4 linked regions of the Homo sapiens genome follow. The protein of the gene in region 3 purifies or fractionates together with the protein of the main gene of each other region. This does not show direct contact. Each region holds a gene or a part of one and is shown on either strand. Other genes may lie near its edges. The genes, in order: ANKRD17, COP1, ZNF263 and ANKRD52.

The links.
Region 1: the proteins of ZNF263 (region 3) and ANKRD17 purify together in Homo sapiens (affinity purification with mass spectrometry; 2 studies listed by BioGRID and IntAct, with this or other methods). This does not show direct contact.
Region 2: the proteins of ZNF263 (region 3) and COP1 purify together in Homo sapiens (affinity purification with mass spectrometry; 2 studies listed by BioGRID and IntAct, with this or other methods). This does not show direct contact.
Region 4: the proteins of ZNF263 (region 3) and ANKRD52 purify together in Homo sapiens (affinity purification with mass spectrometry; 2 studies listed by BioGRID and IntAct, with this or other methods). This does not show direct contact.

Annotation. Positions count from the first base shown.
Region 1 is NC_000004.12:73,136,484-73,144,820, reverse strand, and holds part of ANKRD17 (ankyrin repeat domain-containing protein 17), read left to right. Parts: coding exon 1-76; intron 77-2,053; coding exon 2,054-2,181; intron 2,182-2,435; coding exon 2,436-2,579; intron 2,580-2,977; coding exon 2,978-3,080; intron 3,081-4,537; coding exon 4,538-5,290; intron 5,291-8,337.
Region 2 is NC_000001.11:175,986,950-175,995,286, forward strand, and holds part of COP1 (E3 ubiquitin-protein ligase COP1), read right to left. Parts: intron 2,531-8,337; coding exon 2,413-2,530; intron 1,464-2,412; coding exon 1,339-1,463; intron 155-1,338; coding exon 1-154. UniProt on the Homo sapiens protein: E3 ubiquitin-protein ligase that mediates ubiquitination and subsequent proteasomal degradation of target proteins.
Region 3 is NC_000016.10:3,286,140-3,292,946, forward strand, and holds the end of ZNF263 (zinc finger protein 263), read left to right. Parts: coding exon 1-10; intron 11-2,314; coding exon 2,315-2,431; intron 2,432-3,253; coding exon 3,254-4,419; 3' UTR 4,420-5,321; downstream 5,322-6,807. UniProt on the Homo sapiens protein: Transcription factor that binds to the consensus sequence 5'-TCCTCCC-3' and acts as a transcriptional repressor.
Region 4 is NC_000012.12:56,247,405-56,255,741, reverse strand, and holds part of ANKRD52 (serine/threonine-protein phosphatase 6 regulatory ankyrin repeat subunit C), read left to right. Parts: intron 1-789; coding exon 790-877; intron 878-1,021; coding exon 1,022-1,164; intron 1,165-1,462; coding exon 1,463-1,675; intron 1,676-1,941; coding exon 1,942-2,020; intron 2,021-2,339; coding exon 2,340-2,454; intron 2,455-2,655; coding exon 2,656-2,738; intron 2,739-2,844; coding exon 2,845-2,962; intron 2,963-3,171; coding exon 3,172-3,240; intron 3,241-3,426; coding exon 3,427-3,567; intron 3,568-3,646; coding exon 3,647-3,727; intron 3,728-6,871; coding exon 6,872-6,983; intron 6,984-7,175; coding exon 7,176-7,247; intron 7,248-7,517; coding exon 7,518-7,719; intron 7,720-7,967; coding exon 7,968-8,055; intron 8,056-8,131; coding exon 8,132-8,249; intron 8,250-8,337. UniProt on the Homo sapiens protein: Putative regulatory subunit of protein phosphatase 6 (PP6) that may be involved in the recognition of phosphoprotein substrates.

The sequences.
Region 1 (8,337 bases), on a different chromosome or scaffold from region 3:
GAAGGTGGAAGAACTCCTTTAATGAAAGCTGCAAGAGCTGGTCATGTTTGTACTGTTCAGTTCTTAATTAGTAAAGGTAGGTTTGTATAAAACAGTTGTCTTTTTTTGAAAGGTATCTACCCCTGCCTTCATTTAGAGATTTAAGGGTAAAGGTCTTTTGAAGGCAAGAGGGTATCATATGAGGAGGGATGCTACTGACATTTAATGATTGAGTGGATAGTTGATAAACATCCTGCCATGCACAGACCAGCTTCAAACTAGAAATAATTGTCATACCAAGTAGCACACTTGTTGTGAAACGTATAAAGGAAAGGGAAATTTCTCTGTGTAAAAACTGAGGATTTAGGTAACAAACTCTGCTGTGTTCATGTACTATAGCACTTTCTTGAAACCTGGAATTTTATGATGTTTCTGCCACTAAAAAAGTTTGTGGCAAGTAACATTTCTACTATTTCCCTGCTTCTATGTTTCCTTTTTTATAAAATACAGGGAGCTGGTTATAAATATAGTACAAAAAATGTTCACAATAGAAATGTGACAAATATAGCAAATTGCATGAGGATTTTCATTCATGATCAGAAATTTTAGTTTGAATACCAAAGACCTTAATGACCAAATAAAATAAAAGGGAGTATATTATTACTTTCTTTAAATTGTTTCTTAACGTGCTTACTAGGAAAGTTCTAGTTGAGACAGTTTTCAATTCAGAGTTCATCATATTCTTAAGTATAAGAGATTACAGATTTTATTTTTGATTCTGCATTGATAAAAGAAAGAGGAAGCCAGGTGTGGTGGCTCACCCTTGTAATCTCAGCTCTTTGGGACCTCGAGTCAGGAGGGTCCTTTCAGTCTTGTAGTTCAAGACTAGCCTGGACAACACAGTGAGATTCTGTCTCTACAAAAAATTAAAAAATTAGCTGGGCATGGTGGCTTGCACCTGTAGTGCCAGCTAGTTGGGAGGCTGAGGTAGGAGAAGCACTTGGGCTCAGGAGTTCAAGATTATAGTGAGCTATGATTGTGCCACTGCACTCCAGCCAGGGTGACAGAGTGAGAACCTGTCTCAAAACAAAAAAAAGATGTAGGCCATATACAATTTTAAAAGGCAATAATATACCATTTTCTTCACATTATAATAATAGTAACGAAATCTCAAGTTTATAATTGTTTATAGGTAAAGAAAATTTGAAATAACTTACTGGCGAAATTACTTTCAACATTTTCCCATGCACTGGTGATATGCTTTAGAATACTGTTATGAATATATAGCATTATGTACATAATCGCTGTCCCCTCTCATTGGTTAATTTTAATGAGTTTGATTTCAGTTTCTTTCTGCTGTTTTATTTCCATTTCTCACATTACCTAGCACAGTAATCCAAATTAGGGATAGAGGTCAGGTGCAATGGCTCATGCCTGTAATTTCAGCATTTTGGCAGGCCAAGGTGGGAGGATCACTTGAGCCTAGGAGTTTGAGACTAGCCTAGGTAACATGCATGGCAAGACCCCATTTCTACGAAAACAACAAACGAATAAATTAGGGATACATTCCTATTTGGGAATAGGGGTGAATTATCTATTTTCCTTGTCAGGAATTTACTAATGGGAAAAAAAATGGTACTATTCTTTCTATTTAGTGTTTATTCTCTACATAAAGCCCATAGAGGGCAGTATAGTTTATTTTTATTCAGTCATCTTTTCTACTGAAGAACTTAAAATACAAATAAAACTTCATATTTTACTTTTAATACAGTTATTACATTAGGAGTAATGGGTACTTTGGTATCTTTTACTGGTGCATACTCAAACCTTTTCAAATTATATCGTGTTTGTCTGGGATTTATTTACTTTAGAATAATCCAAGATGGGAGAGGAGAATTAATGTAGGATATTTGTGAAATGAGATTGGCCTTGTGTTTATAATCATTAAAGCTCGGTAATGGGTATGTGGAGCCTCATAATACTATTTTCTCTACTCTTCATGATTTTTAAATTTACCATAATTTTAAGAAAAACCATTCTACTAATATGATTTTCCATGCCTTTTCTGTTTTAGGAGCGAATGTGAATAGAACCACAGCTAATAATGACCATACTGTACTGTCCCTGGCTTGTGCAGGGGGTCATCTGGCAGTGGTGGAACTACTTTTGGCTCATGGGGCAGATCCTACTCACCGTTTGAAAGTATGTAACTCAAATGTTTGTGCAGAATTGTGAATTAGTATTTCTCTCTTGGTCATTGTTACAACATATCATGTACAAGTTCCATTCATAATGGCATTCTAAGTGTAAATTTTCTCCTTTTTCACTTGAAGCGTTCTTTACCAAACCTATGATTTTAATGCGTCTGGGACCTGTTGGCTTTATCTTCCTAAGTGATTCTGTAAACTAACTTATTTTTCTTCACTTTTTTTCCCCTTCCATATTCACTCTTTTAGGATGGCTCAACTATGTTGATAGAAGCAGCAAAAGGTGGCCATACAAGTGTTGTTTGCTATCTCTTGGATTATCCTAATAACTTGCTTTCAGCCCCTCCACCAGATGTCACTCAGTTAACTCCCCCATCCCACGATTTAAATAGGGTAAGATTTTAAAAATTAAAGCATTTTATGGTATGTCTTCTTTATCCTAATTCTTTCACTTACAGTTTCTGTTTAAATTAGGGTTTTTTTTTGTTCTAATATGTAGTTCTGTTTGTAAATATGTACTTGATACAGTTAATGAACATCTGGTACAATATTCAGATCCTAGATGATATGATTATGCTTTAGCTTTTAAAGGTCACAACTTGAATTCAAAGCCTACTAAAAAATGTCGTGGTAAACAATTTGGTGCCAACATATTTTAAGTAAATATGTCATTGTCTAAGATGACATATTAAAAATATTGTCAAAAAATCTCTAATTTATTCTTTATTTAGAGCATATTACTTAATGGATTGTGTAGGACACTAATAGTCACTTAGTGTCCTTTGTCTTAGGCTCCTCGTGTACCAGTTCAAGCACTGCCCATGGTTGTTCCACCTCAGGAGCCTGACAAACCACCTGCCAATGTTGCCACCACTCTTCCCATCAGGAATAAAGGTCAGTTATACTTCTAAAGACTGTTTCTTACTTGGTGTCCAGGTAAAAATAAGATTACCAAAAAATAGACATTTCTACAAACAAAGAAGTTTACTAAGTTGGCATTACTAAATTTTTAACCCATGATAAAAGCATGTTATTGGGAGAAAAAAATAGTTAATAGCACTAATTTGTGCTACAATTAGAAGTTTTAGCATGAGAAATTCAGATGCTCATCTTTGATGCAGTTCTGATTATCCATGATTTCCTTTAATAGTAATTTTTATTCATGTAAAATGTTAAGCTGGGTATAGTTGAGCAATATTTTTATAAATTACTTACCTAAATCTCTGCAGTTATAAAGGCATAAATTAACAAGATGTATCAAATATTAGAAATTTATTTTAGAATGACTGGCTTAATATAGATTTTATATCTGATCTGGGATACCTTTTCTCAACCAATAATTCAGTTACTTGAGATATGCTTGTTTATTTCTCTAGAATTCTGAGGTCCATATTTGACTTGTGTATGTTACACCATGTGTGTTCTTAAGTAATGTCCCCAAACATTTTATACCTACCGGTTTGAATCAGTTTTTCTTTTTAAAAGTTTTACCTGAAGAAACAGTGCAGTTTTTATTTTTTGGTTTTTGGCTACGTATACTCTTTTATGAACAAGAATGCTAAGTATTTTCACCAGCTCTTTTCAGTCACTACTATCAACCTAGAGCCTTGGCACCTTTTTCAGTTGGTATAGCAAACAATTGATTGCTATACCTATAGCCAGATCTGTCTGTTCACCTGGCTGTCAGAAGATACAGTGGATGGCATAGTCCAGCATCTTTTCTTCCAGGGAAACTGAATCCCAATTCTCTACTGGCCAGATAGCTGTGTGAATATGTGAATTTATATCTTGCCTCTATTAGTCTTGAAGATGGTAGGCCCCAACAAAGACATATATTTTACTCAGATTTTAATTTCTTGTTACTTCTTAGTGGTTTGGGTACTTTTTGTGTGTATGTGTGTGTGTTTAAAAGGCACAGACTATGAAATGTGAAAAAACCTGACTTAGAGGTCTGTTTCCTCTTCACCCTAATAATTTAGCATTATTGTTCTGTTCTTATGATGAGTTTTAACATCTTTATGACCATATAAAATATCTACACATAGCCTTAGATGTTACTTTAATTGCACACTTAGATATCACAAACCTGCATTCCTCTATTGTCTAATTTAAGCCATGTGCTATTTTTAAGATTCTGAAATTAATTTACAAAGATTTTGCACATAAAATACATACATTTTATATTTGTGAAAAAGAAGGTGGATTTGTTTTTAATTTTTTAACAGTGCATTTTCACCTGTTATGGATATGATTACTTAGTGCATAACTGTTGGCACTAAACCTCCCAACAGTAACTCTGTAATGAGGATGCCATTCATGTGCACTTCTGAGGGGGTTTCTTTTTCACACAGCTGCTTCTAAACAAAAGTCCAGCAGCCATTTGCCAGCAAACAGCCAGGATGTACAGGGTTACATCACCAATCAGTCTCCAGAGAGCATTGTAGAAGAGGCTCAGGGAAAGTTAACAGAACTGGAACAGAGGATAAAAGAAGCCATAGAAAAGAATGCACAGCTGCAGTCCTTGGAACTGGCTCATGCTGACCAACTTACCAAGGAGAAGATCGAGGAGCTCAACAAAACAAGGGAGGAACAAATTCAGAAGAAACAAAAGATTTTGGAGGAACTACAGAAAGTAGAACGAGAGTTACAACTGAAAACTCAGCAGCAGCTAAAAAAGCAGTATCTAGAGGTTAAAGCTCAAAGAATTCAACTTCAGCAACAGCAGCAACAGTCTTGCCAACACCTGGGATTACTAACTCCTGTTGGAGTTGGAGAGCAGCTTTCTGAGGGAGACTATGCACGGTTACAGCAAGTGGATCCTGTTTTACTTAAAGATGAACCCCAGCAGACTGCTGCTCAGATGGGTTTTGCGCCAATCCAGCCTCTGGCGATGCCTCAAGCTTTGCCTCTGGCGGCAGGTCCCTTGCCTCCAGGGTCCATCGCAAATCTTACAGAACTGCAAGGAGTGATAGTTGGACAGCCAGTACTGGGCCAAGCACAGTTGGCAGGGCTGGGGCAAGGAATTCTGACAGAAACACAACAAGGGTTAATGGTAGCCAGCCCTGCTCAGACCCTCAATGACACGCTGGATGACATCATGGCAGGTGGGTTTATATTGTTATGAGCAGGTATCAAATATGATTTGCTTAAGGCGAGTAAGAATGTACCCAAATTTTTTGCCGTTACCCAACTTGAGAACTATTTTTGGACTGACTCATGTCTAGCTTTAGAAGTATTAGTTCAATCTCAGAAGTTCTCAGATGGATACAGGTCAAATTAAAGATTAGCTCATTCAGTACAAATGACTGAAGCTTTCTGGCTTAGCTTGGTAGCTTGAGAATCTAGGTTTTTCAGTAGTGGGGTTGATGTTTGATTTTTGTTTTTGTTTTCATTTTTTTCCTTTAAGTTCAGAATACTGAGATTGAATTTTGGCATTTTGCTTCTGTATTCACACCAATAAACTGGGAAATTGATAGAAGTTGAAGTGCAAAACTAGTAGGACACATCAGGAAGCTTATTTATGAACAGAAATACTTTATATCCTAATGGATCAGACTTCAAACCTGATGGATATTTAAAAAAAAAAACACTTTTACAAAATTAATAAAGTTCAAAACCAAATAGGGTTTAATTATACTGTATGTAAGTGATTTTGTCCCCTGTGAATGTTAATGTGTAGTCTCTTTCTAACTGTATCATGAGAAGGTGTGGCCCCCCTGAAAGTATCATAAATGATATATTTTTAGATGTGTAGCCAGATAAATTTTATTCGATTATAACTAGTTTCATTGACAAGAAGATACACTTTAGAAGACTGTTTTTATGCTTCTAGTTTTTGGTACTTATTTTTTGTGTTTTGTAACAAAGTAATGGGATGAGGTTTTATAGGGTTGTGAACCATAAGAATGCTGTACTGAGAAGGATAATTTGCTTCATTAAAAAAAGAAAATTTGAAAAGGAAGGAAAACAGAAAAATGAAAGGAATAAACAGTGGAATTTTGGTGACTTCCATCTGATCTCTTCCCCTTTTTTATTCATTCATCTGTACTTAGAGGATGATTGACTTTTTCTAATTTAAAAACTGTTTCAGTAGCATTAAATATGATGAGCTTATTTTTTTTTAAGTTTCATCTTTTAAATGGATAATAGGAAACTAAACTGTATAGTGTTTAGATATTTAGGTAACGTTCAGACACTAAGAATCCAGCTGAGATAGATTTTATACTTAAAAATATCTGTAAAGTTTGCTAGTCCGCCTTTAATAGCACCTCAGTAGTTATAACATGTGGAATGAAAATTTCTGCTAGTCTTAAGGGTTAAATAACCACATTGGAAAAATGCTAGTAATAATTACTAGTAAGAATTGTACGACTCTTATTGATGAGTGCAAAATTTTTCTATAGATTTGAAAGTCACTACTAATCATGACTAGCTGATTATAATAATTGAGAGTAAACTTTTAAAATTATTAAATATCCTGTGAAAGTTGGAGCACAGTAACCATTAACCCTAAATTTGATACTATGTCCATATGAATTCAGATCATAATAGTGCTCTATCATGTGAAACTACTAAAGGATGTATAGAGTTAAATATTACGTATCCACTTTAATGAAGAATAGGTATTACACAGTAATGGTTGTTTAAAAAAATTTTTTTTATATAATATCAGAGTTTACCTGATGTGCTTGGGCATGCATAGTTGTCAACAATGATTTGCTAGTTGTACAGTTTTGTATGCTGATCAGAATTATCAGAAGTTTGTAAAGTATCTTTTCTTTTGATTCATACATGAAACAAAAACAATTCTGTGTATTCTCAGTGTTCTGTATAAAAAAATTTTAAGTGCATATAACTTTTTAGGAAATATGACAGATGCTTGTCATAATACAAAAATATTTTACTTTTTTATTATGCTCATTTCTATGGGGAGAGAAACATAGCCAGAAGGAGGAAGAGTAGGATTGAAAACATTTGGCTACTTACCTGCAACTCATCCCTGACAACAGGCATGTGCACATTCACACACATGCACATATACTCATGCACTGACTTTTGCAGCCTCAATCTTAAATTTCTGTGGTAGGATGTATCCTTTCAGTTGCTTAATGATGATTTCCACTTCTTTCTTAGGGGTTTAAAGTATATTACAGCCTCATTAGTCTCATCGTCTTCTTTTCCTCCCTCTAGCACAGTCCCTGCTCTTTATTTCTTAGGCTTCATTTATTAGACTTCTACCATAAAATTTGCTGACCAAAATCGTCTGTCTTTCCTGTTCTTCACACTTGCCAAACCAGAATCAGCTCCCTGTTTAACCTGTCTCAACACCTTGCCTTTGCTATCATTTCAAGTTCCCTTTTTTCTATGCTGACATTAAAACTTTTCTGATGTGTGGTTCTCCCTCTCTAAATCTAACACTAAAATGAAGCCCCACATGTAAAGATTTTTACCAGAGTTCCTTCAGGTACCTACATATTTTACATTTGTTTCTTTTAGTTGTAGAGAATGGATGTGTGATTGACAGTCACCTAATTTTAGTAAACCAATTTTATAGGTACCCCGAAGGAAATGATGAGATAATTGATTTTTCCTGTCTCCTTTTAGATGAGGTGATAAGAACAACCAATTTGACTTAAAAAAAAAAAAAAAAAAAACTCTGTAATTTTGGTAGGTTCTTTAAAAGAAAATATTCCAGTTGAAATGTAAATTATAATTTAGTCATTTAACAATAAAACTTAGATTTTTTTTAACCTGTTTAGTATTATGAAATAAAATTTAGTGATTCGGACAGACTGGTGTTCATCCTGTTTAAGCTACTTTTTGTATTTAGCAGTTTTATTGTGAAAATCCAATCAAAGGAGATATGGAATCAATTTAAAGAGCTCTAGATTTTATATGATTTTGAAATGTATATCAACAATATGTACATTTAAATTATCTTGATCTTTTCGTAACATACAAAACTATCAATATGGAGTAACAATATCCAGATCGCTAGATTATCAATTTAATATATTAGTATATGCCCTTTTCTATTGGTCTGGATCCCTAAGGATTCAAACAGTGTTTTGTTTTGTTTTGTTTTGTTTTCTCCTTCGTTTTTCCTTTGGCTTTTAAGTGGACTTAAAAATGTATAATTATAGAATGTGTG
Region 2 (8,337 bases), on a different chromosome or scaffold from region 3:
GGTAGTGCCCTCCAGCACACAGCACTAACAAATTCATTTGTATCATCTTCTTTTCGGTCTTTGTCGAGAACACTTTTGACTGTATCAAACTTAAAAGTTAGCAAAGTCTTAGAAAGTCCTTTATAGTACAGGTAGAGAGAGTTATTTTCACTTCCTGAAAACAAATAATAATAATAGTATTTTAGAATAGAAAAACTCGGAATTAGGACATCACAGTCTAATAGTAATTATCAGCCAAAGTTATAGTTCAAAGATCTTTTATGGGCAAATTTGAAAGGCTAGATCACAGGACTAATTAGAAATCATGTAAGAAAAGGATTCTTGGACAAAAGCTATACTTTACTAATCTAAAGAAACAATCAGTGTTAAATGATACAACAATACTGATAATTCTAAGGCTAAAATTACCCTATAAAATCATTTATAGAGGTTGGTACAAAAGTAATTGTGGGTTTTGTCATTACTTTTAATTACTTTTGCACCAGCCTAATAAGTCTATAGTAGAACCAGAAATATATTATAAGAATCTTAAATTACATTTAGGAAGATTTCCATTTAGAGAGGTAAAAGAAAGTGGCAACACTTACACAGGCAGATTTTCATAGCCTACATAATTTATTTCCATTTCTCAGTATAGGAATTATTCTATTAATGGTCTATGAACTGTATTTTTATTTTTGAGCCATCTATTAAAGATAGAATAATTGTTCCAGATATTTGCTTTGGCAGTCTCATACATATGTGGAGAAAGTCAACTTTGCTGAACAAAGGCCAAGTCATTTAAAAGTATGATCAAAGCTCATCTATTCAGGCATTAGATGTATCAGAGCATTTGAATAATATCAAATTTGATTTTTCTATTTCTTATTTAAATTTGTATAAATTATCAACAATAAAAGCCATAGAATAACAGATCAATGCTATGCAAACAGATTACTTCATGAAGAGAACAGCAGATAGGGGAAAATGAATATCAAGCTTAAGAAGACACATAATGTCTCCAAAATTGGAAATATTACTAACAGAACTTAACCTTTTCTGTCTTCTACACAATATCTAAAGAATTATGTTATAATGGAGAACAACTATAAAACAGTTAAAAATCAGGTGTTCAGGTATTTGAGGTGTTCAGGGTTTCTACACAATAAAAAAGGGAAGGACTAATGCTCTTCTAGTACAACACAAGGAAAATCAGTAGTGCTGGGGCATCATGTCTATTATACTATCTTCTGAGTGCACAGACCATTTCTTGACTTAGTATTTATTCTATTTCCACTGAGTTCAATTTCAATAACAAACACCTGTTAAAAAGTTCCTGGAAACGATGGTTTCACTTACCACAAGCTATATAATCTCCATTGGAAGCCAGGCCTACAAAGTTTTTTTCATTGATATGACCCTTGAAGGAACGTAGGCAGTATGGTTTCCCTACATTCCACAGTTTTAGCTGACTGTCTGTTGAGCTGAGGAAAAGTACAAAGAGTAAGAACTTACTTAAAATTTCTTGGCACGAAACTCATCACTACTAATTAGAGGCAATGCAGTTTGCTGGTTAAGAATGCAGGCTCTGGAGCCAGACTGAGTTAGCACGTTCATCTGTCGGCCAGGCGTGGTGGCTCACGCTTGTATTCCAAGCAATTTGGTAGGCCGAGGCAGGTGGACCACCTGAGGTCTGGAGTTCGAGACCAGCCTGGCCAACATAGCAAAACACCGTCTCTACTAAAAATACAAAAATTAGTCGGGCGTGGTAGCACGTGCCTGTAGTCCCAGCTACTTGGGAGGCTGAGGCAGGAGAATCACTTGAACCTGGGGGGCAGATGCTGCAGTGAGCGGAGATCACACCACTGCACTCCAGCCTGGGTGACAGAGCGAGACTCTGTGCCAAAAAAAAAAAGTTTTCTTTTCAACATATTTAAAGTCACCATGAAATCACAGATAAATGACCATGTCAGTGTAAAAGCCAACCAAGTAATATTTAAAACCAAAAATAATTCTACTACTATACTGCAAGTAGATAAAATACACAGTAACACATGAGTTGACTTTAATAAATAAAATACTTCTCATTCTATTGCATCAACTATGTTGTTTATCTCTTCTTTAGAAGCAATAGCTAAAATCTAATCTGAAGTTCAAATGCAATTAAACATAGGAGGATGAGATAAGGGGGGAGGGTATATAAAAAACTAGTATCTTCAGGATTTTACCCACAATTCACATATAAAAGTGCACAATACAGACCAGAAACCACACTACTTTAATTGGACAAGATTAAAAAAAAAATCTACTATTTAAGAAAAAGTACATATACTCCAATATTATAGTTTACATACACCCTCAGTGACATTACAAGCTGGTAGGTAAGTACAGAGCTCTGTATTAAGCTCAACCTCTGAGGAGAGTAATACTCACGCAGAGACAATTTCCTCACCACTCACAAACTTTGCATAAGAGACTGCTTTACGGTGTCCTTTGAATACCATGATTGGCTGTTTAGTGTTACGAAGATCATAGTAGTGGACACAGTGATCTAAAACAAAACAAAATTAGATAAATGTAGTAAATGCAGAAATGGAAAGCAAAGTTAATTTTAACTGGTTTTTGGTTTTTTCATTAAAAGTTTCACATATGATGTCTAATCTCTAACAGCCAGAAAACAAAGGAAAAGGAATCCTTTTCAAATATAAGATTGGCTCTAGAAAGAGAGTATTAAGGGGTCAAAATAACTGGAAACTTAAAAATCAATCTTTGTTTTAATGATGTCATGAAAAAAATGTTAATATAAACATTATGGGACATCTGGATAAACATAATGCTATATAATCTTATTTCCCATATTTGTTTTAAAAAACCATTATTTAGATATATTTTGCATATAATAAAATACACACACTAAAAATATTGTATGCAATTCAACGATCTTTACTAAATTTAACCAGCAGTTCAACTATTACCATAAATCAGTTTTAGAGTATTTCTGCACTCCGATAAGATCACTCATTTGGCATCCACCATCACAGGCAGTCTCTATTCCTGTCTGTCTCTATCACTAATTTCTACTCTAACCTTTATTATTTCCTTCCTTCTGCTTGTCTTCAGTTAGCTTTGTTATTCTTTTTAAAGACAGACACTTAAGGATACACAATTCTCTATCAACACTGCTTTGGCTGATACCACAAATTGTGATATGATGTGTTTCCATTTTCATTCAGTTTAAAATCCTTTTACATTTCCTTTGTTATTTCTTCTTTGACTAATGGTTATTTAGTAATGTGTCATGTAATTTCCAAATACTTGCAGATGTCTCAAAGTAACTATTGTTGATTTTTAATTTAATTCCATTTTGGTCAGAAAACTGTTTTGTATGTCTTCAATCATTTTAAATTTATTGACAGAAAACTGTTTTGTATGTCTTCAAGCATTTTAAATTTATTGACTTATTTTTAGTCTTAAATATGGTGTCCCCTGGAGACTGTTACTAACACTTGCTTGAGAAGAATGTGCATGCTTCTACTGTTGGCTGAAGTGGTCTTTGGATGTCTGTTATGTCAGATTGACAATGTTATTCAAGTCTTCTAAAACTCTGCCAATTTTCTGTCCAGTTTTTCTATGAAATATCAAAAGTGGAGTATTTTTCAACAACTTCAGTCAAAATATCTGTTTTTCCCTTAAATATCACAGATTTTCTTTTCATATATCTACAAAAAGTTTGTTTTGAGGTGTGTTGATAATTGATGTATCTTTTCACTATTGATTCTTTTACCATTATAAAATGTCTTTGTTTCTAGTACTGATTTCTACTCTAAGTATATTCTGTTCGACCTAAATATAGCCATTCTACCATTTTTCTTGACTACTACTTACATGGTATATCTTTTTCCATCCTGTTACTTTAACCTATTTGTGTCTGTGAATCTAAAGTCTATCTCTTGTAGACAGCATAAAGCTGGATTCTAATTTTTTTTTTTTTGTAAACCCATTCTGCCAATCCCTGAATGTTACAACATTCAACATACTTACATTTAATATAATTATTAATAGGTTGCACATCTGAAATCAAAAAATCCCAAATCCTTGCTTTTGGAGTGCCAACATTTCAATCAAAGCTCCAAATGCTTCTTCATTGGAGCATTTCAGATTTTGGATTTGAGATGCTGAACAGTAAGTACAATAATACATACTTAACAATGGAGATACATTCTGAGAAATGTATCATTCAGCAATTTCATCACTGTGTGAGCATACAGTGTACTTTCACAAACCTAGATGGTATAGACTACTACACACTTAGGTTATGTGGAATAGCCTATTGTGCTCCTATGCTACAAACCTATGTATCATGTTACTGTACTGAATGCTGTAGGAAACTGTAACAATGGTAAATATTTACGTATCTAAATATAGAAAAGCTACAGTAAAAATAAGATATAAAAGGTAAAAAATGGTACACACCCATACAGGGGACTTATGATGAATGGAGTTTGCAGGACTGAAAATTGTTTTGGGTGAGTTAGTGAGTGGTAAATGAACATGAAGGCCTAAGACGTTAACAGTATACCTAGGCTACACTAAATTTACTGTAAAAAAGTGTTCTCCCTTCAGAAATAAATCAACCTTACCTTACAGTGATTTTCTGACTTTATAAACTTAAAAAATTTTTAAAGCTTTTTGACTCTTGTAATAACACTTAGCTTAAAACACATACATTGTACAGCTGGACAAAAGTATTTCCTTTTTACATTTCCTTATAAGTTAAAAAATTAAAATAGGAAAAAGCTTTTTAAACTTTTTTGTTAAAAACTAAGAAACAGAAAGTTAGCCTAGGTCTACACAGGGTCAGGATAATCAATATCACTGTTTTCACCTCCACGTTTTGTCTCACTGAAAAGTCTTCAAGGGTAATGATATGCATAGAGATGTCATCTTCTCTGATAACAGTACCTTTTTCTGGAATGTCTCCTGAAGGGCCTGCCTGAGGCTGTTGTATAGTAACTTAAAAAAACAAGTGTAAGAAGTACAGTCTATAATAATGGTAAAAAGTAAATAATAAACAAGTATATAGTTATTTATTATCTTTATCAAGTATTGTGTAGTATACGTAATCGTATGTGCTAGACTTTTTGAACATTTTTAATTTTTTTTGAGTATTATAGTTGGTATATACACTTATGTGGAATATGAGATGTTTTGATACAGGCATGCAATGCATAATAATCACATCATGGAGAATGGCGCACCTACCTCAAGCATTTATCCTTTGTGTTACAATCTAATTATACATTTTCAGTTATTTAAAAATGTACAATGGGAGGTGGAGGCAAGATGGCCAAATAGGAACAGCTCCAGTCTACAGCTCCCAGAGTGAGCGACGCAGAAGACGGGTGATTTTGCATTTCCATCTGAGGTACCAGGTTCATCTCACTAGGGAGTGCCAGACAGTGGGTGCAGGAGAGTGGGTGCAGCGCACCGTGCGCGAGCCAAAGCAGGGTGAGGCATTGCCTCACTCGGGAAGCGCAAGGGGTCAGGGAGTTCCCTTTCCTAGTCAAAGAAAGGAGTGACAGACGGCACCTGGAAAATTGGGTCACTCCCACCCTAATACTGCGCTTTACCGACAGGCTTAAAAAATGGCGGACCAGGAGATTATATCCCGCACCTGGCTCGGAGGGTCCTACGCCCACGGAGTCTCGCTGACTGCAAGCACAGCAGTCTGAGATCAAACTGCAAGGCGGCAGCGAGGCTGGGGGAGGGGCACCTGCCATTGCCCAGGCTTGCTTAGGTAAACAAAGCAGCTGGGAAGCTCGAACTGGATGGAGCCCACCACAGCTCAAGGAGGCCTGCCTGCCTCTGTAGGCTCCACCTCTGGGGGCAGGCACAGACAAAAAGACAGCAGTAACCTCTGCAGACTTAAATGTCCCTGTCTGACAGCTTTGAAGAGAGCAGTGGTTCTCCCAGCATGCAGCTGGAGATCTGAGAACGGGCAGACTGCCTCCTCAAGTGGGTCCCTGACCCCTGACCCCCAAGCAGCCTAACTAGGAGGCACCACCCAGTAGGGGCAAACTGACACCTCACACCGCCGGGTACTCCTCTGAGACAAAACTTCCAGAGGAACGATCAGAGAACAGGACTTGCGGTTCACGAAAAGCCGCTGTTCTGCAGCCACCGCTGCTGGGACCCAGGCAAACAGGGTCTGGAGTGGACCTCTAGCAAACTACAACAGACCTGCAGCTGAGGGTCCTGTCTGTTAGAAGGAAAACTAACAAACAGAAAGGACATCCACACCAAAAACCCATCTGTATATCACCACCATCAAAGACCAAAAGTAGATAAAACCACAAAGATGGGGAAAAAACAAAGCAGAAAAACTGGAAACTCTAAAAAGCAGAGTGCCTCTCCTCCTCCAAAGGAACGCAGCTCCTCACCAGCAACGGAACAAAGCTGGATGGAGAATGGCTTTGACGAGTTGAGAGAAGAAGGTTTCAGATGATCAAACTACTCTGAGCTACAGGAGGAAACTTAAACCAAAGGCAAAGAAGTTGAAAACTTTGAAAAAAATTTAGACGAATGTATAACTAGAATAACCAATACAGAGAAGTGCTTAAAGGAGCTGATGGAGCTGAAAGCCAAGGCTCGAGAACTACGTGAAGAATGCAGAACCCTCAGGAGCCGATGAGATGAACTGGAAGAAAGGGTATCAGTGATGGAAGATGAAATGAATGAAATGAAGCGAGAAGGGAAGTTTAGAGAAAAAAGAATAAAAAGAAATGAGCAAAGCCTCCAAGAAATATGCGACTATGTGAAAAGACCAAATCTACGTCTGATTGGTGTACCTGAAAGTGATGGGGAGAATGGAACCAAGTTGGAAAACACTCTGCAGGATATTATCCAGGAGAACTTCCCCAATCTAGCAAGGCAGGCCAACTTTCAGATTCAGGAAATATAGAGAACGCCACAAAGATACTCCTCGAGAAGAGCAACTCCAAGACACATAATTGTCAGATTCACCAAAGTTGAAATGAAGGAAAAAATGTTAAGGGCAGCCAGAGAGAAAGGTCGGGTTAACCACAAAGGGAAGCCCATCAGACTAAGAGGGGATCTCTGGGCAGAAACTCTACAAGCCAGAAGAGAGTGGGGGCCAATATTCAACATTCCTAAAGAAAAGAATTTTCAACCCAGAATTTCATATCCAGCCAAACTAAGCTTCATAAGTGAAGGAGAAATAAAATACTTTACAGACAAACAAATGCTGAGAGAATCTGTCACCACCAGGCCTGCCCTAAAAGAGCTCCTGAAGGAAGCACTAAACATGGAAAGGAACAACCCATACCAGCCACTGCAAAATCATGCCAAATTGTAAAGCCCATCGAGGCTAGGAAGAAACTGCATCAACTAACGAGCAAAATAACCAGTTAACATCATAATGACAGGATCAAATTCACACATAACAATATTAACTTTAAAGGTAAATGGACTAAATGCTCCAATGAAAAGACACAGACTGGCAAACTGGATAAAGAGTCAAGACCCATCAGTGTGCTGTATTCAGGAAACCCGTCTCACGTGCAGAGACACACATAGGCTCAAAATAAAAGGATGGAGGAAGATCTACCAAGCAAATGGAAAACAAAAAAAGGCAGGGGTTGCAATCCTAGTCTCTGATAAAACAGACTTTAAACCAACAAAGATCAAAACAGACAAAGAAGGCCATTACATAATGGTAAAGAAATCAATTCAACAAGAAGAGCTAACTATGCTAAATATATATGCACCCAATACAGGAGCACCCAGATTCATAAAGCAAGTCCTGAGTGACCTACAAAGAGACTTAGACTCCCACACAATAATAATGGGAGACTTTAACACGCCACTGTCAACATTAGACAGATCAATGAGACAGAAAGTCAACAAGGATATCCAGGAATTGAACTCAGCTCTGCACCAAGCAGACTTAATGGACATCTACAGAACTCTCCACCCCAAATCAATAGAATATACATTTTTTTCAGCACCACACAACACCTATTCCAAAATTGACCACATAGTTGGAAGTAAAGCTCTCCTCAGCAAATGCAAAAGATCAGAAATTATAACAAACTGTCTCTCAGACCACAGCGCAATCAAACTAGAACTCAGGATTAAGAAACTCACTAAAAACCGCTCAACTACATGGAAAGTGAACAACTTGCTCCTGAATGACTACCGGGTACATAACGAAATGAAGGCAGAAATAAAGATGTTCTTTGAAAACAACAAGAACAAAGACACAACATACCAGAATCTCTGGGACACATTCAAAGCAGTCTGTAGAGGGAAATTTATAGCACTAAATGCTCACAAGAC
Region 3 (6,807 bases):
GACTCACTGGGTAAGGACTTCTTTTCCAGGGATGATGACTGCGCCATTTCTGACCAGGGTCCTGCCCGTTATTCATTCACCTCCTGGACACAGACTCTGAGTTTTGCCAAGAAGCCTCCACAGGAGACTTCCCTTTGTCTAAAGTCCCCTGTACGAGAGTCATGTATCTGCCAAGTGGTACAGTTGGCACAGGCAGCCCGGGACTGGAGTCCCAGCTGCCAGAGCCTAAGGCGAGTCTGAGCCATGTGCACTTCCTAGGGCAGAGCAAACCCAATGCGGTGACAACCTGCCAGCATCACACACATGCAGTATTCCAGGATGCTGGGGGGCTCTAAATGGTTGATTCCTTGCAATTTTCAGATGCTTATTCTTATGAGCTCGCCAGTGTTTCCTGTGTTCCGTTAGTGTTTCTAGGCTCGTCCCCAAAGACAAAAATTTCAGGGGTAGTAGGATCAACATTCCAGCCTATCATCTCTCACAGCCCATAAAAATTCAGAAAGTGGGGAGGGTCTTGTGGAAATTTGGAAACAATGTATAGCTCCAAAGTAGGCCATATCATAAATTAAGATTTACCTATGTCTTGTACTGTACTCAGAGTTTTAAAATTATGCCTACGGAATATGACAGACTGACATATAGTTGGATTTAGGTGGAGGATATGCTTGTATTTATTGTACAATTCCCTCAACTTTTCTGTATGTATGAGAATTCTTTTAATAAAAAGTTGGGGAAGTCTTAACATAAAACAAGACTGTGTGTACATTATGATTATACCTATGTTGAAACACACCAGTAGAAAGACTCACTGGTGTGGTGGTGGTAGTCCCAGTTACTCAGGAGGCTGAGGGGAGAATCACCTGAGCCCAGTAGGTCAAGGCTGCAGTGAGCTATGATGATGCCACTGCACCTCAACCAGGTGACAGAGTGAGACTCTGTTTCAAAACAAACAAGACACACCGCACATTGTTTCCATATATCAGGTTTGCCTAAAAAGTATCACAACTGTACATTTGTTGACACTAATTCTGCAAACGCAATCTTGCTCACTGCAACCTCTGCCTCCCGGGTTCAAGTGATTCTCCTGCCTCAGCCTCCAGAGTAGCTGGGATTACAGGCATGCGCCACCACACCCGGCTAATTTTTTGTATTTTTAGTAGAGACAGGATTTCTCCATGTAGGTCAGGCTCATCTTGAATTCCCGACCTCAGGTGATCCACCCGCCTCCCAAAGTGCTGGAATTACAGGTGTGAGCCACCACACCCGGCCTTTTTTTTTTTTTTTTTTTTTTTTGAAGTGAGTCTCACTCTGTTGCCCAGGCTGCTCTGGAACTTCTGGGCTCAAGCAGTCTTCCTGCCTTAGTCAGGAAGTGTGCCACTGTACCAGTTTCCATATTACTTTTCACTGCTGTGATGTCCAAAGTTGAACATGGCCCTTTTAGTGAGAGATGCTAAATAGGAAAAGATCAGATTACAGCTTGTTGGAATTAAACTTCTGTTGGAGTCCATGTTTGCTGGAGGTGGAGGTTTTTGTTTTTCTTTTTGGCACAGCATAGAAATGGCACTTGTGGGTTTTAATCTCATGGTCCTCTTAGAGCCCTGGGTCCTTTTCTGATTGTCTATTATGTTATATTTTCTTTCCCTGGAGTTGTCCGGTCAAATTTAGTTCTATTTTGTATTTATATGTAGAGACAAGGCCCTTTTATGATATTAAATGGATTATTCAAGGAACTGACCATGTTCATTTTATAGTTATTTCAATTACAGTAGTGTACATTCTCATTGCAAAAAAAAACATTCCAAGTACCATGAATATTTAAAAAAAAAAAAAATTGGCCGGGCGCAGTGGCTCACACCTGTAATCCCAGCACTTTGGGAGGCCGAGGCAGGCAGATCACTTGAAGTCAGGAGTTCGAGACCAGCCTGGCCAACATGGTGAAACTCCATCTCTACTAAAAATACAAAAATTAGCCGGGTGTGGTGGTGCACGCCTGTAATCCCAGCTACTTGGGAGGCTGAGGCAGGAGAATCGCTTGAACCTAGGAGGCAGAGGTTGCAGTGAGCGGAGATCGTGCCACTGCACTCCAGCCTGGGCGACAGAGTGAGACTCTGTCTCAAAAAAAAAAAAAAAGTCTCCCTCCCCTAATTTCTTTCTCTAGAGGTATCCACTGGGAACAGTTTGTGTATATTCCAAGTAACTGCTGTCAGATTTATGGAGCATTCTGTATTTATCCACTGAGGGCAGGGAACAAGACTGTTTCCCTACCCTGGTAGAGGAAAGTGGCAGTACAGAAATCTGTTTCTTTCATTGTGAACAGAGTCTCACATTCCCAGTCAGGAGGTCCCAGGCACCCAGGTGGGACAAGGAGGAAAGCTATGGGATCCCAGTGTCCAGAGCTGCAAGGAGGGCCTGAGCCCCAGAGGCCCAGCTCCAGGTAAGGAATGAAGACAAGTGGCCTGCGCAGCAAGCAGCAAGGCTCTTGCAGTTAAGAGTGAGGCATTTTTTGGTTTTGTTTTGTTTTGTTTTGAGATGGAGTGGCACTCTTGTTGCCCAGGCTGGAGTGCAACAGTGCGATCTCGGCTCACTGCAAGCTCCGCCTCCCAGGTTCAAGCGGTTCTCCTGCCTCAGCCTCCCGAGTAGCTGGGATTACAGGCATGCGCCACCACGCCCAGCTAATTTTTTGTATTTTTAGTAGAGTCGGGGTTTCTCCATATTGGTCAGGCTGGTCTCCCTGACCTCAGGTGATCCACCCACCTCGGCCTCCCAAAGTGCTGGGATTTACAAGTGTGAGCCACCGCCCCCAGCAGAGTAAGGCATTTGAGGATTTGGGTGCAGGGCCGGCCCAGCACAGCTGCTAGAGAGGTACATTACGTCCTTTGACCCTGCCATTCTCCATCCCAGTGAGGCAAGTGAGGAACCCAGGGTGCAGAGTTCAAGGAGGCCCTTATTCTTGAGCTTACTTGTCCCACCCTACTCTCAGCCCTGCTCCATCCCACCCATTCCTGAAGGGCAGAATCGAGAGGCTCAGGTGGAAAGGAAAATTCTAAGACTGGTCTCGGCTCTGATTCCTTGACCAGTGGCCCGACCCTTTATCCTGATGCTTCTCCAGAGTGCTTTACCTTTAGGAGAGGATGGGATTCTGAGGTAGAAGCAGCCCTTCTGGGCTGCTGACCTAACAGGCAGCGGCAGACAGGTGGGATTTTCTTTTCTCCAGCATAGAAATAATGTACGGGTTTGGTTTCTCTCTCTCTACCAGGAGAAGAGAAATTTGAGAACCTGGAAGGTGTTCCGTCTGTATGCTCTGAGAACATCCACCCTCAGGTGCTGCTTCCTGACCAGGCCCGAGGGGAGGTGCCCTGGAGTCCTGAGCTGGGAAGACCTCATGACCGGTCGCAAGGGGATTGGGCGCCTCCCCCAGAGGGTGGAATGGAGCAGGCCTTGGCAGGAGCCTCAAGTGGCAGAGAACTGGGGCGACCGAAGGAACTGCAGCCAAAGAAACTCCATTTATGTCCCTTGTGTGGCAAAAATTTCTCTAACAACTCAAACCTAATTAGGCACCAGAGAATACATGCAGCTGAAAGACTGTGTATGGGTGTGGACTGCACTGAAATCTTTGGTGGGAACCCACGTTTCCTGTCACTACACAGAGCACACCTGGGAGAGGAGGCCCACAAGTGCCTTGAATGTGGGAAATGCTTCAGTCAGAACACCCATCTGACTCGCCACCAACGCACCCACACGGGTGAGAAGCCCTATCAGTGCAACATTTGCGGAAAATGTTTCTCCTGCAACTCCAACCTCCACAGGCACCAGAGAACGCACACTGGGGAGAAGCCCTACAAGTGCCCTGAGTGTGGGGAGATCTTTGCTCACAGTTCCAACCTCCTTCGGCACCAGAGAATTCACACTGGAGAGCGACCTTATAAGTGTCCCGAGTGTGGGAAAAGTTTCTCTCGGAGTTCACACCTCGTCATTCACGAAAGAACTCATGAGAGAGAGAGACTTTACCCCTTCTCTGAGTGTGGGGAAGCTGTGAGTGACAGCACCCCCTTTCTTACAAACCATGGAGCCCATAAGGCAGAGAAGAAGCTCTTTGAATGTTTGACTTGTGGGAAAAGCTTCCGGCAGGGCATGCACCTCACCAGACATCAGAGAACACACACAGGAGAGAAACCGTATAAATGTACCCTTTGTGGGGAAAACTTCTCTCATAGATCCAATTTAATCAGGCACCAGAGAATCCACACAGGAGAAAAACCCTATACCTGTCATGAGTGCGGAGACAGCTTCTCTCACAGCTCCAATCGGATTCGCCACCTGAGAACGCATACGGGAGAGAGACCCTATAAATGTTCTGAATGTGGAGAAAGCTTCTCTCGGAGTTCCCGTCTTATGAGTCATCAGAGAACTCACACAGGTTAGTAACAGTGGGGTTTCTCTTTGCCCCAGGTGAGGTGGCATATTCAGAGGAGCCTGTTGGCAAGAGCTGGTATTCCCTGCCCAGCCGACCAAATGACCTCTGCATTCTTCAGGTAATGGGGGCTCATTGTGAGGGAGGTGCAGAGGCAGCAGAGGATTGGCATAAAACTGAAAAGGAGTTCTGTCTGCATGAGAAAGGATGGCAAGTCTCTGAGGTGACCTCAGGGTGGAATTCTCTGTTAAGTCCACCCTGCCCCAGGGTGCTCCTACCCTCTTGGTCTTTTTAAAGCCAAGGTGCGATTTGGGCACCTGACTGTCCAGTTTACCTTAACAAGTTTGGGAATCCATGTGATGTTTTTGATACTTCTTCCTCATTTGGGACATTCAGTAGGAGCATTTGGGCTTCCGGGGCCCCTGAGACCAAAGAAGAGGGGCCAAGTACCCTGGGAAATCAGCTGAAGGTCAACAAAAGACTGGTTGTGAGTTGCAGCTGTCCCGAAGGCCCCAGTTGGGAAGCCATGGGCAGTCCAGATCAAGCCACCACGTGCCCTACGATGGCCTAACAGGAGTGCCCATTGGCAGATTACACATGTAAATATGACCTCAGACAAAAAGGAACCAGAGGCCCAAGGGCAATAATAAGGTGGAATTTGCAGGTCAGCCCAGGAATTGGCAGAGGAAGTAGGTGTCTGATAACCCTTTGTGGAGAATGAGATTCCCCCCACCTGTGTGAGAAAAATAAACAGCTCTGGAGTCTTGTTCCTGACTCCAGAGGAACGAGAGCATTCCAGGAAAGAGAGATTCCCTGGAAAATTGAAAATGTGAATCCTAGGGGGAAATTGGGGATTGTGTCTTTCCCTGTTGAAAATGTTTGGATGGGAATAAATATCTTCAGGAAACATAAATGTCTGTGAGTCTTCAATGAAAGCCTCTGTCTAGACCCCCGAGTGTTGATCTGTCTCCCCTCTGCCTTGGTCAGAGGCCCTGCTTTCTCATAGACTTACTGGGTTGGTCAGGAAGATGCTGACAAAGGAGGCAGCAGACAGGCAGAGGCAGGTGAGGGCCTGGCAGCCTCCAGGCTGGGACTGCCATGTGGTAACAAAGGGTCAAGCCAAATGGCTGCTGGGGTGATGCTGTCATAGGGTCTCTAGAAAGTATTCTTTCCTTCTGTGGTCTATAGCAGTAAAAATGTTTTCAATTCTTTGTTTAGAATGTTTACATTCTTACTCAGTAGCTGAGGAAGATCTGACTCTTAGAGAACAGGATATTTTGGTCTTGCAACTGATTTCCAGGGTGGAAGTTAAGATGGTCCCAGTATAACTGAGTTATTGATTATTAATGGTAGGAAGATATAGGAGATGGCGCAATTATTAAGGGAAAGCATTATATTTATTTTTTGGTAGAGGTGGGGTCTCACTATTTGCCCAGGCTGGTCTTGAGTTCCCGAGCTCAAGCCTTCTTCCCATCTTGGCCTCTCAAAGTGCTGGGATTACTAGCATTGCATTTTAGAATGGCATATCAGAAATAGGAATTCTAGTAGTGTGTATCTGTGGGAAACGGGGGAGTATTCTAAGAGTAGGAAATCGGATGCCAGGAAAACACCTCAGGATACAGCCCCGGAGGAAGGTATCCAGCTGTTCTTCGGGTGAAAAAGATGAAGAAACAGTCCTTTGGGAACAGGCTGATGGATATAGCAACTTGAAGTCATGGAAACAGCGCTCCATTGATCCTTCTCTCAGCCCTGCCTCAGTTTAGTATGTGTTTTTCTTTGGTTGTCTGAGCCAGTTTTTTAATATCTCACTATTTCTCATTTCTGTAACTTCCTCTTAATCAGCTTGTTCACAGGAGGAGGGCAGTGGTGGTGTGGGGGTTGAGGGCAGGGAAGTGGAGGGTTAGGATTAGAGAGATCAGAGTAGGATCAACAGTGGTAGGAGCAGGACCACACTCCAGTGGAGCAGTGCAGGGCCAGCCAGGCTGCTGATGTCATGAATTGGATGGAATGTAAAGCTGGTGTTCCTACAAAGCACTCTGGTTAAGATGGCAGTTTATGTGGACAGAGACTGGAAAGCGCCCCTTCCATCTACTCTCCCTCCCTTGGTAACATCACCCACACAGATCTTATGATGTGGTCCAACTGGTGCTGCTCATACTTGGAACACTGCAGCTTGAAGCTGGGAAATGACTCTCAGGTATTTGCCATAAAAAGGCATTCCATTGGAACGCTTCACTCAAATCTTCAGTCTAGTTCCCCTTCTAGTAAACTTCACATGCTTAGCTGTTCTTGGCCTGTTTTAATGAGATGACATCACAGAAAATAACTACATAAAGCAGCACTATGCCTGGCATGTAAGAAAGTGCCAACTGTCGACAGATGATCCAAAAGATTTCCTT
Region 4 (8,337 bases), on a different chromosome or scaffold from region 3:
TTCTTACCTTCCTACTCACGTTTCCCTGCTTCTGGGCCCTCAAGCCTGAAGGAGAAGCAGCCCGGATGGTTATATAAACACTTAAGCTGAAGCACTAAATGAATGGTCAGACTAGATTAAAATTCTTAACTTGGACTTCAGGAGGTTGATAAAACCTTGGATTTTGCGTGGAAAATATTTGCATACACGCCTTTCTGAAGAGAGTCCATGTCTTTCAGCACATTTGCAAAGACTTACAAGAGTTTAAGAACCGGCCGGGCACGGCGGCTCACGCCTGTAATCCCAGCACTTTGGGAGGCGAAGGCGGGTGGATCATGAGATCAGGAGATCGAGATCATCCTGGCTAACATGGTGAAACCCTGTCTCTACTAAAAATACAAAAAATTAGCCGGGTGTGGTGGCGGCCGCCTGTAGTCCCAGCTACTCGGGAGACTGAGGCAGGAGAATGGCGTGAACCCGGGAGGCGGAGCTTGCAATGAGCCGAAATCATGCCACTGAACTCCAGCCTGGGTAACAGAGCGAGACTGTCTCAAAAAAAAAAAAAAAAAGAGTTTAAGAACCACCAGATCACCTGAAGAGACTCTCTTGTTTCCCTTAAAGTTCCAAATCTCTCCAGTATCTCCTCCTTAGTGCCTGCTTCTGCTGTTCCCTCGAGTCCTCCAGGTTGTTTTGCTCATGGAAAAAGGCATTAGGCTGCCTCAGCCTTTTCAGGAGATGAGGCCTCTGCTCTTAGGTAGGTTGAGGGCACGAATCTAGCTCTGAACAGGTGTCTTTCATATCCTGATGCAGACGGTGAACCTGCTCCTCAACAAGGGAGCCAGCCTGAATGTCTGTGACAAAAAGGAGCGGCAGCCTCTGCATTGGGCAGCTTTTCTAGGTGAGAGAGAATACACGGGAAAATCAGAAATTTGACATTTAGGATTCCTAGGGCAGGGATGTGGGGTTGCAGCCTTTGAAGAGAGGAGTGTAGGGTCTTAGAGTTTACCTTCTACTTCCTTTAGAGTGTCTTCTCTTTTCTCAGGGCACTTGGAGGTCCTAAAACTGCTGGTGGCACGGGGAGCAGACCTCGGCTGCAAGGACCGCAAGGGCTATGGGCTGCTCCATACAGCTGCTGCCAGTGGCCAGATTGAAGTGGTGAAGTACCTGCTTCGGATGGGAGCGGAGGTCAGGGCTTTGAGCTCTGGGGTTGGGAACTATGGGCAGCAAGTAGGAGATTATAGTCTGTTACGGAGATATGAGGTATTGGGATGTTGGTATAGTTTTGGGAAGTTGGAAGGACGTGGTAGAGAGGGTCTGAATAATGCTTACCTTAGCCATAGTGCCCTTAGTACCTTAGTACCTTGGGTCATAAACCCGAGAGGAAATGAGGCAGTCGTTGGATTTCTGGGATCTGGAGGCTACATGTGCTGGCTTCTACTTTGTTTAAACTGATACCACCTTACTCTCACCCCTGAATATCCAGATCGATGAACCCAATGCTTTTGGAAACACAGCTTTGCACATCGCCTGCTACCTGGGCCAGGATGCTGTGGCTATTGAGCTGGTGAATGCCGGAGCCAATGTCAACCAGCCGAATGACAAGGGCTTCACGCCACTGCATGTGGCTGCAGTCTCCACCAATGGCGCTCTCTGCTTGGAGCTACTGGTTAATAATGGGGCTGACGTCAACTACCAGGTGCCTGAAGGGATAAGGCTTAGACCAGTGGGGAGCGAAACTTGGATCTAGGGGTCCTGACTGTATCTGGATAGCTCTCTTGGGGAATTATCCACTTGCTTCCTAGGGTAATCAGACCTTGCCAGGGACTCAGGAAAGAGTGGGCTAAGAAGGTGCCATATGACCCTTTTGTCCTTAGAGATATGTCCTTGGAAGGGAGGTAGGGCATTCTCTGTGCTTTGCACTGGAAAAAAAAACAAAAACAAAAACCCACCATGTTTCCACAGAGCAAAGAAGGGAAAAGTCCTCTGCACATGGCTGCAATCCATGGCCGTTTCACACGCTCCCAGATCCTCATCCAGAATGGTATGGACCTGGGAGACTTTGTGCTCTCATCCCCTCCTCCCCCAAGGAACTCATTTCTAGAATCTAGGGAGGTTCCTAACTTCCTTCTCCTGCCCTCTTCCAGTAGGATAGGCCCTTGGAACTCTGACCAAGGGACCTGTGGAAATGGCCCTGCTCTGCCCTGCCCAGTCTCCTAAGGCCTAGAAACAGGATAAAATATGTAGAATCCTGGGCCTGGCACCTGATGCATACATAGTAGGCACTCAAATCATGGCTAGCTCGCGAAAGTGGTCTTAAGCCTGAGGTCTGCCTGAGCTTGTGTGTGTGCATCCCCTCACAGGCAGCGAGATTGATTGTGCCGACAAATTTGGGAACACGCCACTGCATGTGGCTGCTCGATATGGACACGAGCTGCTCATCAGCACCCTCATGACCAATGGCGCAGATACCGCCCGGTGAGTCAGGGCCCCGACTCCACTTCTGGGCTGCCCAGATCTGCACAGACTGCTCACATCAACCATGGAGGCACAGATAAGCTTGCCAAAGGGCACCTTGGAGAACCTCCTACCCTGACTCTAGGGTGGTGGTAGGTCACAGAAGAGGTCTTACTTGGTCCCTCCTTGACCCAAGGACTGAGTCCCTCAACTTCTCTCTAGGCGTGGCATCCATGACATGTTCCCCCTGCACTTAGCTGTTCTCTTTGGATTCTCTGACTGTTGTCGTAAGCTTCTTTCCTCAGGTATGTGCTGATGGGCTGGGGATTGGCAGGTGTATAGGAGAGCAAAGGCCTTTCCCTCCCTGCTGAACACTCTCAGATGTGACCTGTGGCTGTTCTGTGCCTCCAGGTCAGTTGTACAGCATTGTGTCTTCACTCAGCAATGAGCATGTGCTTTCAGCTGGGTTTGACATCAATACACCTGACAACCTTGGCCGTACCTGTCTTCATGCTGCTGCTTCCGGAGGGTGAGTTCTCTTTCTCTCTCCCATGCTTTGAGCAGGGAGCTGGGCAAAGGTCTGGGCCCCTCATTCTTGCCTGCCCAGATCTATTCCCCCTCTCACAATGAAAGCAGTCACAGCAGAAAGGGCTTGCTAGTCCCATCCTTCCTTAGCCCCACCCTGGGCCTGTGGCTTCCCTTTGAGGCTGTAACTCTCTTAACACATCTTTCTTTTAGGAATGTTGAATGTCTTAATTTGCTGTTGAGCAGTGGAGCTGACTTGAGGAGGAGGGACAAATTTGGCAGGTATGCTAATATGCAGGGGTAAACATAGGGAATATCTGATTAGAGAAACAAATGGTAGAGGGAGGAAGGGTTTAGATTGGAGACTTAAATAAGGAGAATGTTACAAAGCAGCATTTGGCTGCACATCTGATTGCATTCGTATCTGTCTCTGATTCTCTTCCCCACCCTCCTTCACTTCTTCCCCAGGACCCCACTGCACTATGCAGCTGCTAACGGTAGCTACCAGTGTGCAGTAACATTGGTGACTGCTGGGGCAGGTGTCAACGAGGCCGACTGTAAAGGCTGCTCTCCCCTCCACTACGCTGCCGCTTCTGACACTTACAGGAGGTGAGGCTACCAGTCTGGTCCTTCTCAGCCCCATTCACCTCCCTGAGCCTGGCCCTAACTTTCTCTCTCTCTTCCCCAGAGCGGAACCCCATACACCTTCCAGCCATGATGCCGAAGAGGACGAGCCACTGAAGGAGTCCCGCAGGAAGGAGGCCTTCTTGTGAGTAGCAGAGAGGGCCCCTGGGATGTGCTTTCCCCAACCCATGCAAGCTCTGGCCCTACTGTCCTCCTACCTAATCTGAACCTCTACCCTATACTGCTGCTGTCCTGCCGGTCAGCCAGCAGTGTGTCTTGAGCCCTCTGGGTGTAGTCCATAGTGGGCAAAGACAAAAGTATGAGATTGAAGCTCAGGAGCTTCAGGGGGAAAAAAAAACCCAAAAGTATGAGACATAGTTCCTTCCCTAAAGGAATGGATTTTTTTTTTTTTTTTTTTTTTGGAGACAGAGTCTCACTCTGTTGCCCAGGCTGGAATGCAGTGGTGTGATCTCAGCTCACCGCGCCCGGCTGGTCTTCTTGAGAGGATTAGAAAAGCTAAATGTACAAAATAATTTGTTTATTCCACAAGCATTAATTAAATATTTACTTACTAGGTTCCAAGTACTGTGCTAGATACTAAGGATAAAAGATGAGGCTGGGCGTAGTGGCTCAAGCTTGTAATCCTAGCACTTAGGGAGGCTGAGGTAGGCAGATCACCTGAGGTTAGGAGTTCAAGACCAGCTTGACCAACATGGTGAAACCCCGTCTCTACTAAAAATACAAAAAATTAACCAGGTGTGGTGGCACACGCCTATAATCCCAGCTACTCAGGAGGCCGAGGCAGGAGAATTGCTTGAACCAGGGAGGTGGAGGTTGTAGTGAGCCGAGATCACGCCACTGCACTCCAGCCTGGGCAACCGAACAAGACTCTGTCTCAAAAAAATTAAAATTAAAAATAGGCCGGGTGTGGTGGTTCACGCCTATAATCCCAGCACTTTGGGAGGCCGAGGCAGGCAGATCATCTGAGGTCAGGAGTTCGAGACCAGCCTGGCCAACGTGGTGAAACCCCGTCTCTACTAAAAATATAAAAATTAGCTGGTCATGTTGGCAGGCACCTGTAATCCCAGCTACTCGGGTGGCTAAGGCAGGAGAATCACTTGAACCAGGGAGGTGGAGGTTGCAGTGAGTCAAGATCACACTAATCCACTCCAACCTGGGCGACAGAGTGAGACTCTGTCTCCAAAAAAACAAATAAATAAATAAAATTAAATAAAAATTTAAAAAGGATGAATTGTCCCAAATTTCTGTCTTTCGAAAGCTAATAATCTATTGGGAAAGATAAATAAAAGGACACTTATGCATACTAATGTAAGATGTTAATGACGGGAAACTAGGTATAGGTTATGTGAGAACTCCCTGTACTATCTTCACAATTTTTCTTTTTCTTTCTTTTTTTTTTTTTTTAATTAATTTATTTTGTAGGTCAGGGATCTCTCTGTGTTGCCCACACTGGTCTCGAACTCCTGGGCTCAAGCAATCCTCCTGCCTCAGACTCCCAAAGTGCTGGGATTACAGATATGAGCCACCACACCTAGCCCACAATTTTTCTATAAATCTAATAATATTCTAAAACAAAAAGTTTATTTTTTGCTGGGCACGGTGGCACATGCATATATTCCCAGTTATTCAGGAGGCAGGTGCAGGTAAGGCAAGAGGATCATGCAAACCCAGGAGTTTGAGGCTGTAGTGCACTATGATCATGCCTATGAATAGCCACTGCACCCCAGCCTGGGCAGCCTAGTGAGACCCCGTCTCTAAAAAAAAAAAAAACCCACAAAAATCAGGTAGGCACAGTGACTCATGCCTGTAATTCCAGCACTGAGGTGGGAGGATTGCTTGAGCCCAGGAGTATGAGACCAGCCTGGCTAACACATAATGAGAACTCATCTCTATTTTATTTAATTAAATAAATAAATAAATTAATTAATTTATTTATTTATTTGAGATGGAGTCTTGCTCTGTCACCCAGGCTCTAGTGCAGTTGCGCGATCTCAGCTCACTGCAACCTCTACCTCCGGGGTTCAAGCGATTCTCCTGCCTCTTCCTCCTGAGTAGCTGGGATTACAGGTGCCTATCACCACGCCCAGCTAATTGTTTTTTTGAAGACCGAGTCTCACTCTGTTGCCCAGGCTGGAGTGCAGTGGCATGAACTTGGCTCACTGCAACCTCCACCTCCTGGGTTCAAGCAATTCTGCCTCAGCCTCCTGAGTAGCTGGGACTACAGGAGCACGCTGCCACGCCTGGCTAATTTTTTGTATTTTAGTACAGACGGGGTTTCACCATGTTGCCCAGGCTGGTCTTGAACTCCCGAGCTCAGGCGATCCACCTGCCTTGGCCTCCCAAAGTGCTAGGATTGCAGGCGTGAGCCACCACGCCCAGCCTAATTTTTGTATTTTTAGTAGAAACAGGGTTTCGCCATGTTGGCGAGGCTGGCCACGAACTCCTGACCGCGGGTGATCTGCCCACCTCAGCCTCCTAAAGTGCTGGAATTAAAGATGTGAGCAACCGAGCCAGGCCCCTGTCTCCATTTAAAATAAGTAAATTAAATAATTTTTTTTTAAGATTTATTTTTTTAAAAAGGACACTAAAATCCAAGAGGCTCAGCTATTACCTTCAGCAAGTTACTTCTCTATGCCTCAATTTCATCACCCACAGTAAGGATAAAAATAGTATCTACTTCATGGGATCTTTATGAGGATTAAATTATTTAATATACATGAAGTACTTAGAACTGTGCTTGACAGTAAGTGCTACTTTATTATTATTACTACTACTACAACTACTACTAAGGTATGAGAAGACTGCCAAGGGAGCACAGAGGAAGAGGCATCTTCCCCAGGGAAGGCTGGGAAAGGCCTCACAGAGGAGAGAAGCTGGGACTGAGTTTGAGATGAACAGGACTTATTCGGGTGGGCTGGGAGGAGAAAGCATCCTAGGGCAGGGGTTGGCGTGCCTGGAGGTGGGGAAAGCATGTTGGTCAGCAGAAGGCTGATAACTGAACATCATGCTCTAGGTTCTCTAGGAGAGCATTCAGAGGATAAAGGAGGGCATTGAAGCCAGAGGGGTTCAGGGCAGACCTTGAGAAGGTAAAGTGGGTCTGGAGCTGCCATTGAAGAATGGGTAGGATTTAGAGAACCTACCTAGAGCTGAGGACGGGTGGCGGCCAGGTAGGCCTGGAGGGCCTTGGTCCTCTCCTCTGGCCCTCCCAGAACTGTGCCCTCCTGGGCTGGGCCTGTCCCTGCCTCACAGTCTACCCCCGGCTCCCCAGCTGTCTGGAGTTCTTACTGGATAACGGTGCAGACCCCTCCCTGCGGGACAGGCAGGGCTACACAGCTGTGCACTATGCAGCCGCCTATGGCAACAGACAGAACCTCGAACTGGTATGTGTTGGGGCCCGGCCTGCAGGAGGGGAGGCAGGGGCAGGGCACAGGGTTTGTGGATTCCAAAACTAAGGGTTCAATCAAATGTGGTCTTTGGATCCAGAGGCTTAGTGGGGATTACTGCGAGTCGGGGACTGGGGTACTATCTTGGGAGTTCCAGAGTCTCAGCACCTACTTTCCTGTCCTTTGCAGCTCTTAGAAATGTCCTTTAACTGCCTGGAGGATGTGGAGAGCACCATTCCAGTCAGCCCTTTGCACTTAGCTGTGAGTCCCACGTCTTTTTTCTGTTGCCTTCCTTGTCCTACCTGTTCCCAGGCCCTAACAAAGGTGCCAGCACTTGTGAAGTTATCCTTCCTTCTGCCTTTTTGTGGGAGAGGGGATAAGCACAGTGCAGGGTAGGAAGCCTTAAGGGGCCCAAGGAGCTTGTCAAGGACTAAGACCTTGAGCTTCCCAGGGACCCCAAGAGCAGAGAAGGGGAAGGGAGGAGCAGGGAAGGTCCCGAGCTGTGTGCACTGGTTGCCTGCACCTTGCCAGGCCTACAACGGTCACTGTGAAGCCTTGAAGACGCTGGCGGAGACGCTGGTGAATCTGGACGTAAGGGACCACAAGGGCCGGACCGCACTCTTCCTGGCCACGGAGCGCGGCTCTACTGAGTGTGTGGAGGTGCTTACAGCCCACGGCGCCTCTGCCCTCATCAAGGAGCGCAAGCGCAAGTGGACACCCCTGCACGCTGCTGGTTAGTGCCCACTTTAGGCTGCTGCCCTACCCTTGCCATGCCAGATCCCTCCTGGATGGGAATGGGGCTGGAAAGTGGAGTAGGGTGAGGAGAATGGAGACTTCAAGCCCTGATTCATAGCTTCCTATCCTCAGAGATTTCTCCCTGGCCCAGGTCTTTCTGTAACATTGACCCCAAGTCCTTTAGGCTTGACCTTGCCTCCCTTCTTCCTCCTGGCCCTGCCCTGACACGGGGTCCCTTTCCCCTAGCTGCCTCTGGCCACACTGACTCCCTGCACTTGCTGATCGACAGTGGGGAACGAGCTGACATCACAGATGTCATGGATGCCTATGGACAGTGAGTGTGGGCCAGGGTGGGGTGCAGGTTTTCCAGTCCTTGCGGGATCCTCACTCCTCCTCCTGCCCTTCTGTAGGACCCCACTGATGCTGGCCATCATGAATGGCCATGTGGACTGTGTACATCTGCTGCTAGAGAAAGGATCCACAGCTGATGCTGCTGACCTCCGGGGCCGCACTGCCCTCCACCGCGGGGTGAGTGAGCTTCTAGGGGGGATTGTTTGCACATGGGCCTCAGTGTGGGAGCATGGGACTCACCAGCAGTAGGGAATCCAATTGTCTA